Regions from separate parts of the Homo sapiens genome. Here region 1 is linked to region 2. Evidence: fine-mapped expression QTL. A gene starts in region 2. The other region holds a variant in brackets. All regions are shown on one strand. Distances are between the middles of the regions. Region 1 has its middle 150 kb from the start of ZNF536. Region 2 holds the start of ZNF536 (zinc finger protein 536).

Region 1 (4,399 bases), 150 kb before region 2:
GGGATTTTGTAGGGCCCATGGGATCTACAGCACTCAGGAACCTTGGGTGCAAGTGCAGATTCAGCCTGCCAGAGACTCTCCAGGGATACAAGCTCAGCCCTTGGGGCCGCCCCTCCCATTTCCCCTACACCGCACCATCCAATTGCATTTTACTCCTCTCTTGGAGCCTGGCACCATCAACATGCATTTGACCTTCAGCACATATCTCTTTGCTCCGAGGCTTCCCTTTCTCTTTCCCCCAAATCCACCAGACTCGACTAAGCCCTTTGGTGGAATCAGGATTTAAAACAAAGCCTCTATAGTGATGGTCCTTCCCTGGCTCCTGGCCCACCACCCACCCTGAGCTCCAGTCTGTTCCCTGTACAGGCCCATGGCCAGCTCTCCATGGAAGCGGGCTGTGACACAGGGCTCTCAGGCACTGGCCAGGGTCAGGGACTTGCTTTTTGCCTGACTTTTTCATTTTCATTTGTTTTCAAGTTGCTACCTGGTAGAGAAATGCTTCCTACAAGGCGATAAAGCTCCGTATTTACCCGTGTAAGTCCCGGGGATTGTTACTGGTGATTCTGTTCAATCCATACAGACCAGGTCACATCTATGAGCCAAAGGGTAACTGTAACCTTTTCCAAAAAACTATATTTTATAAATATTTGCTCCCTTTCATTTGTAGTGGCAAGCAAAATTTGCACTTCTTCCCCAGGTAAAACCAGGGCTGAAAATTGGGACTTTGGAAAAGCAAGGGGCCAGGTCACAGCCATGTGCTGCATGATGCGCACATTTACAGCATGGGAAAGGGAGTACCAGAGAAATCAACATCTTAAGAAAATAAGTTCTGGGATCCCCACCATCAGTTTCGTCTCATAACCTGATATTTTGTTTCAGTTACAATTCAGTACAACTGAATTGTAGTCTCAACAGCCCCCCAAATTTAGAACTTACTATGGGCTATTTCATTGATTTCTCCTCTTCAGGAAAACAAAGCACAGGCCACATTCTGGTCAGAAAGTCCGCTAGCTTCATAACATTTCCCCCAAACCTAATTCAAAACCGATGATAGCTGTTGAAGACAACTGCAGGGCCCAGAGTTGATGGTCCAGGATCTATTCAGGACATTTCTGTTCCACAGCCTTGCAAAGGAGTGGGTGTGTGAGGTTGTAATTATACTCAATAGACCTCAGCACATTTTTTGTTGTTGTTGTTGAGACAGAGTCTCACTTTGTCACTCAGGCTGAAGTGCAGTGGTACAATCTTGGCTCACTGCAACATCCACCTCTGGGGTTCAAGCGATTCTCCTGCCTCGGCCTCCTGAGTAGTTGGAATTACAGGCACACACCACTATGCCTGGCTAATTTTTGTATTTTTCGTAGAGATGGGGTTTCACCATGTTGGTCAGGCTGGTCTCAAACTCCTGATCTCATGATCTGCCCGCCTCGGCCTTCCAAAGTGCTAGGATTACAGGCGTGAGACACCGCGCCCAGCCGCTCAGCACATTTTTTTTTGCATTTGACTAACTCATACAAAGACACCAAGAAGACATCCACATTGGTCCTGCTTTACAATAAAGCCTGATGTAGGAAAATTAGGATTATAAATAAATTACTGTTAATTTGTTATTTTAGGACACGCCCATTCATTTTACAAATGACATTGTCTGTTGAGATGCCTTAAATAACCAGCTCTTCCAGTGCAATCAGGTTCAATTTACAAAAATTTACTTTATAAGCATCTCTTCTGGCACAGAGCTATTAATGCAAAGCAAGGTGCACCTGTAGCTTTAAGAGAATTCTGGTAAGTTCTTTGCCCATTCACTGGAAAGAACACCAGGGACCATGCTTTGCTTTTCTGCCCCTTGTTCCAGCCTTGTTTTTGAGCGCTCTGGTCCCTGGCCCAGGTGTTCTTTGTTCTTGTCAGGTGCTAACTATTATCAGATCTCATTCTGTGGCAAATAGCAGAAAACCCAAAGTAAACTGAATTAAGTTAAAGGAAGTTTATCCACTTACAAAACAGAAAGGTGCTGGGGTGGAGCTGGCTTCAAATGTGGCTGGATTCAGGGCTCATACAAGGCAAGCAGCACCA[T/A]TTCTCTATCTCCATCCTGCCACGGACTGTGTTGGCACCCTTCTCTGGCTCCTCTTGGTGGCCCCTGAAAACTCTGGACTCTGTTCTTTTGGTGCTGGGATGGAAACTACAGTTCTCCAGCAGTTTAACCTCTCCACTAGCACCTAGCAAAAAAAAAAAAAAAAAAAAAAAGTCCAAGATTCACTCTGATTGGACCAACTTAGGCCATATGCCTATTACTGAATGACAGAATCCAGAGAGATGTGATGCACTGATTGCCTGGGATCCGGGGCAGGACCCCCACCCAGATGCCCGCAAGGCAGGAAGGGAAGGTGAAGCTGTTGCTGGAGGAAGGGACATGTTCCGCCAGGACAACACGAATCACTATGCTGACTTCTTCCCTCTGTTGGAAAAACCGGAAGAGGTGTACAACCTTTTCTTGAGCTTGTGGGGCAGCAGCACCCTGGGTCTGGGACCAACAGGTCATGGCAGAATAGCCAAACAGATCAGATGCTTCCCCAATTTCTTCTTATTCAGGAATCACCTCCACCTCTAAGGGCACCCTTCTGAATCATGCTCTCAGGGAGTCTTTGAAGGGTCATTCATACTGCATTGCTCATGACAGAAAAGGCTGCACCTTGGCCTTGGTGGAGAGACAAATGACCCCTGCAGCATAGAAAACCCTTTTTCCTAGTGCAGGACAACTCCTTGCTGAAGCCAGGTAGCCTTCCTCCCAGTAAAGGATGGTCGCCTACTCCCCTGAGATGGAAAAGCAGGGTTCTCCATGGGAGGCCACCTGGGACCCTGTGGCCATGCAGACCAACTCCCCACCTAACACATGGGCCCTTTGCAGACCTAGCGTCTTTCTTCTGCTTGAAGAAGGGAGTCATAACCTGGGGATTAGGGGTATCATTGTGCTAAAACCACTGACTGTGAGTGATCAAAGGGGTATTACAGATGTTGGAGGTCATCTTTATATAGATGGAAAAACTGAGGTTCCAGAGGAGAGGGAACTTGGCCTCTTGATTCAGAAGTGTCCTGGTCCACCCTTCCATCCTGGAGCCAATGTAGCCCTCTTGGGTACCCTCCCTGCTGCTTTTAAATCTGTCTATACAGCAAGTCCTCACTTAATATTGTTGATGGATTCTTGGAAACTGACTTTAAGCAAGTGATGTATAATGAAACTAGTTTTACCATAGATTGATTGATACAAACAAGAGTTAAGTTCCTACAGCATGTCTCTGGTCACAAAGCTTCACCGCGCTTCTACATGTCTAAACATTGAAATAAATATGAGCTATACATACATTTAAGAGCCATTAATAAAACAAGTAAGATCATTACTTACCCCAGTTTTTGATCAATTAGTGAGGGTGGTCATAGTAGTAATGGGTTAAGTCAAAGAATACATGTTTGCAAAGTGAAAATTGTAAGGAGTACCTCTCACCACCACCAAGTTGAAAAACAAAAAATCACAAATATGGTGGACTCAAAATATGTGCAGTCGAAAGTGCACAACTATGAGCACTTTTGTACTGTACTGTTTCTTGGCATACATTAGTATGATTATCATATATTTTATGTATTTTATTTGACAATAATTTATATTCATTCATTGTTTCATGTTCCAGCCTGATGATTCCAGTTCACCATCTCAAGGGGCTGGAGCCTGTCTTAGCAACTCAGGGTGCAGGGCAGGAACCAGCCCTGGACAGGATGCCATCTCATTGCAGGGAACACTCATACATATACCTACACTCCCTCGGGTTGGCACCATGCAGACATGGCTATTCACCTACCGTGCATGTCTTTGGGGCATGGGAGGAAACGTGAGTACCCAGAGACAACCCACGCAGACCTGGGAAGAACGTACACAGTCCGCACAGATAGTGGCCCTGGCTGGAATCCATGTTTTTTTCTCATTACATTATAAGGAAACAATGTTGAAGGAAACAATATTATAAGAAGACCTGGTGTACTATGAAGGAGGCAGGATTATAAGGAGCAGAAGAGAGTGAAGGGAAAAGAATAGCAATATACAAACAAACAAACAAAATGAGTAGTGTTGTGACCAGGAGTGCAACTCCAAAGTAATGGTTTGATAACATTTTATGAATCACTGCCATGTTTGAGGCGCGAATGACAGAGGTCAGAACAAACCTATTGGTGTGATCAGTATCACTTTCAAAGTAGGCACTTTGAGTGATTGAACGCTTCTTATAAGGAGCTGATGGGCTCCAGCCTGGTGCAGCGCTTCCCAGCCTTGCTTTTGAGCTGGTCCAGGAGTCACCAAAGAACTCATTTCACCACCTTGATTTTTACCCACAGCCACCACCCACCTAACTCA
Region 2 (4,399 bases):
TTTGAGGAAACCTGTATTTTATAGAATGTCACTTTTATGCACAATCCAGGCAAAACAGAGGGGAAAAAAACTAATTTAAACAGCAGACAGTGTTCTCTTGAATGAAGATTATGACAAAGAATGTTATAAAAATCAAGCTCTAAATATGGCTTTTTATTTAATCATTATTACATCAATCATCAATATCAATACTTAACAGCAAGCTGATAATGTAGCCAGTAGGTGAAACAGCTATTAAAAAGTGTAAAAAAATGATTAATCAGGTACGGGGGATATTAATGCCCTCCAATTATTAAATGATAAGTACGTATTTTTGGAAGTGTTTGTTTTTAATAATCAACTGTAATATTAGTTTGCAAAAACGTAATTGCTTCTTAATTTTGCATTTTAGCTTCTTTGTGCTGGGTACAAAGGTAGTATGTTTCTGTAGTTATTGTTTGCAGCACTCCGTGTAAAAAATCACGTTCATTTCAAGAAGCTGTTATGGTATTGATTGTGGTAAAGACTTCCATTAACTGACCAATCTAAATCTCATAAGTGATGTCAGGATAGTTATGCATTTGCTTGGTTCAAGTATTCAGCCATTATGTTAGAATGCAGGCAGTGTCTGAATATGGCTGTTAAATTATTTCTAAATACCGAACCAGAACAGCTTAACAGTTCTGCAGTTTGAGACTGACACAAAAATGACAATCTGCCACCTCTTTGTTTTTTAAATATTAACGCTGTATTGGGATAGTATTTTTGGAGTAAAAACCTGTGGCACGAGAGGATAAGTGACATAAACAAAGGCAGCTGGGCTTCATGAAATAATGGAACAATAAGGCCTTTGCAGCCGCTCTCATCACTCCAGTATGTTAATTAGCATTCTGTTGTGGCCGCAACACTGAAAACATGTAATCTGTATTGGTGTACAGTACAGCTGTGAACACACATTCTTTTTTGTGAGTCCCTGGAGTTAGCCTTGCCATTGGCATATGCGTTTGGGCCAAAAGTCAAGCCATCACCACTAAAATAGCACACCATAGCAGCAAAATGTCATTTGTCTTTTCTTGTTTTTTTTTTTTTGTTTTTTTTTTCTCTCCCCTCAATGCCACATGCTATCCAGTGATGTAATCTAGTATCACTGCATCTGCCTCCCTGCTGTATTTTTGCAGGAGGGTATCTGGATATCTGTAGGGGAAAGGAGGGGGCATTGCCAGCCAGCAGGAGATGGAAAAGGCAGCGGCCCCAAAAGAGTCAAATTAGAAAATAAATTATTTCTTTTTGCATTATATGTTTAAATGCATATATAGAGAATATATATATATATATGCATATATATGTGTGTGTGTATATATATAAAGAGAGAATATATATACATTGAAGAATCTATGCATTTAATATCTGCCACCTTTTTGCATAGATTCTTCCTTAAGTGTCATGAAACTAGAATCCGCTGCTTGTTTTCGTAAGGTAAAAGAAGGGCAGTTAATTTCAGCACCAAGGCTTGGAGGAAATGAGACCTAAGAAAAAAGAATCAGAGTAAAATTTACCCTTATTTATCATTTCTATTTAGAACTGGGTTGACAGTCTTTCATGCATGTACTTAGGATGGGATTGGCTCTTCCCATTTCAGAGCTGACAAAACTGAGGCTGAGGCATGGTCCAAAGATGGGCCCTAATTGCAGGGCCTTTCTGGCCTCTGTACAGAGAGAGTGAAAACAATTGGTCATTTTGAGGGAAAGGGGTTAGCACCAGTGAGCAGAGGCAGTTAGTAGCTGGGAGCAGTGACTCCAGCCTTCAGAGGCAGGACTCAGAAAGGCCTCTCTTGTGTGATTTTGCTGCTCACACGTGGCCTGCTGGGAGCCGCCCCTGGTACTGCCGGGACACGGCCCTGGGATTTTGCTGAGGCCAGCTTTGGAACAGGGGAGGTGAGTCTGGAGAAGAGAGTTTCCACGTTGTCATCATAGGATCTGGACTCAAGTGACCAAAACCTTGCTTGGATTTTTACCTGATGAAGTTTGTCTTGAAAAGTGAAAATGGTTCCATTTCCATTTTCCCTGTTCTCAAGGTAATTCAGCTTTCTTTGTGTGTGAGTGTGTGAGTGTGTGCAAGTGTGTGTGCGTGCAGTCTCCCCAGCATAGAACACCCACACATGCACCCACCCACATGCAGACACGCACATACTCATGCATGGATTCTTGTTCACGAAGTACACACCCTTTTGCAAAATAATTTTTGAATAAAAAATTATAGCCCTTTAAATTTATTATAATTTAGAAAGGGACCATCCGATGGTTAAAACTTTTCCTATAATTCCTACATTAATTCTCTCCATCACCCGCCCCCCCCATCTAATCTGACTGTACCAAAAGATTTGAAAACAAAGCAAAAACACCAACCAACCAAACAAAACAACCCACCTGCTTCTAAAGTAACTTTCAGACTCCCTGGGCAAAGATTCTTGTCTCTTTCTGAAAGATGAGCATGAATTCTGAGCTCCAAATTTTGCTTTTAATCTGTCTCCAACCTAATTGAAAAATTACCATACCACACAAAGAAAACTCCGCATCGGGATCACCATGCTGATCCAATTGGGTTCTGCTTTTTGACGTTAGAGAAATCAAATTGTCTGGCGATTTGGTGACATGCTTGAATGTCCACCTGGGAGAAGACTAGGTTAAAAGTTAATAGCACTTGTGCTTTTCTTCCCCCCGACCTTTTTTTAAACTCCAGTAGAACGGAACTCTTCCCCACTGGCCAGGCCCTCATCCTGAATCCCTTGTCCAGCCTGGAGGTCTTCTGAGAGTTCTCAGTTGGCACCTTTCCCCTGACTTGTCCCTGTGAGGTAAGGCAGGGCTGACACTGAGATTTTAGTTCTGTTGTTCTTTTTTTTTTCCTAGAAATTCACACCCCCCACCCCTTGGTTAATGGCTCTTTAAATATTGAAATGCCTGGAAAAACAAAACAAAATAAAATAAAATGCAGCCTGTCAAAGAAATAAGAACAACAACAACAAAAATGTTGGTATCTTTTAGAATGTGTCTTCCTAGTGGTAAAAGTATATAATTAATAGGAGAATTTTCCTCCAGATGTGGCTATACTATAATAGAGCCTTATAAATGCTACAGAAAGAAAAATTGCTTGGAACGAAGGCGTCCTCAATGAGAGCACACCTGGGTCTGACAAAGATTGCATTTAGGGACTGCTGTGCTATCACAACGCAGAGAAAGACCAAGTCTCTGGGAGCAGCTGGAGAGAAAGCCCCGGCAAATCTGCATGCAAATAGCAGCACATTGTTAACTTAATCAGATGCCGAGGAAAGATGTGCCAGAATTCCAGGATGATCTACACACACGGAGGAGGAGCGGCCTGAGCTGCAGTGGGAGCCGGGGCCAAGGTGGGCCTCAGCAAGGTGCACGCGGCCCGGCCCCAGCCCCAGGGCCGCAGCCCACCCGCCGCCCGCCTGTTTTCCGGGCCTGCAGTCAATTCACCACATAATGCCCGATTCGCTCTTTGCAAAGATAGAAACGATAGAGCGTATTTCAATGGGATGGAAGCTTTATTATTATTATTTTTTAATGGTGATATAGGTATGGGCATTATTTCGCCTGAGTCCGTAACTCCAATTAAATAATATTTCTGCTTAAATATCCGGGTGCATGAAGATAAGAAATATTGCCCTGGAGTGTATAAAGAAAGAGTTTTTTTTTCAATAAGAAAAGTAGTTCTCTATAGGTTGAAGTGCTGGGTATAAATTGCACCTTAAGAAGAAGTGGAAGACACCTGTTATTTATATTTTATATTAATATTAATGGAAATATATATATCTTAAATCTCCATCTTTTAGTCTAGCACCGTAAAAAATATAAAGTAATACTATTTAATCACCCACAGCTTAATAGTGCCTTAGTTGTTTACTGCCATTGCACTAATTGCTCTGTACTAATGTGTTTTTCTGTGATATCCAGTAGTGCTAAGAGAACAGAGATCCATAACCAATTAAATATAGTGTTTTTTTTTAATGTTAAAAATATATCTGGTGAGGCTAGAAAAGGAATAGAAACCGCCCTGAAGAAAGGCGCCTTGGCACCGCCTCGGTGCCCACCAGAAGGTGCCCGGATTGCCTCTTTTGCGCAAAGACAAAGGGGGTAATTTTTTGGCAAGAAAACAAACCCAAGGAAAACACAACAAACTGAGTGTTGTTTTTTTTTCTTTCCCTCCTGCAACTTCTCGGACCGTCTCTGCCCTCTCTCCTCCAGAGAGGGCGAGTTTCATCCTGGAGGGAGGCCGGGGGAGCTGCGAGGCCACCCCCAGCCGGCGCCCGGGCGGATTGCGAGCCCCCGCGGGTCCGGCCGGGGGAGCGGAGACTGGCCCCCCGCCCGGGCTGGGGCGCCTGCCGCCCGCGAGCCGGAAG

What was found. PIP is the estimated chance that this variant, and not a neighbour inherited with it, causes the effect.
Region 1: its variant is the best candidate, but not a certain one, in a credible set for the expression of ZNF536 in thyroid (GTEx, PIP 0.61).

The regions. Positions count from the first base shown.
Region 1 is chr19:30,217,575-30,221,973 of GRCh38, forward strand. No RefSeq gene overlaps it. Among named protein-coding and RNA genes, the nearest start is that of ZNF536, 150 kb to the right of the region's middle. The variant T/A (reference allele first, on the strand shown) is at 2,074.
Region 2 is chr19:30,370,504-30,374,902 of GRCh38, forward strand. ZNF536 (zinc finger protein 536) reads left to right here and starts at 1,881. Exons shown (of 5, transcript NM_014717.3): 1 at 1,881-2,053. RefSeq lists an enhancer at 2,925-3,426.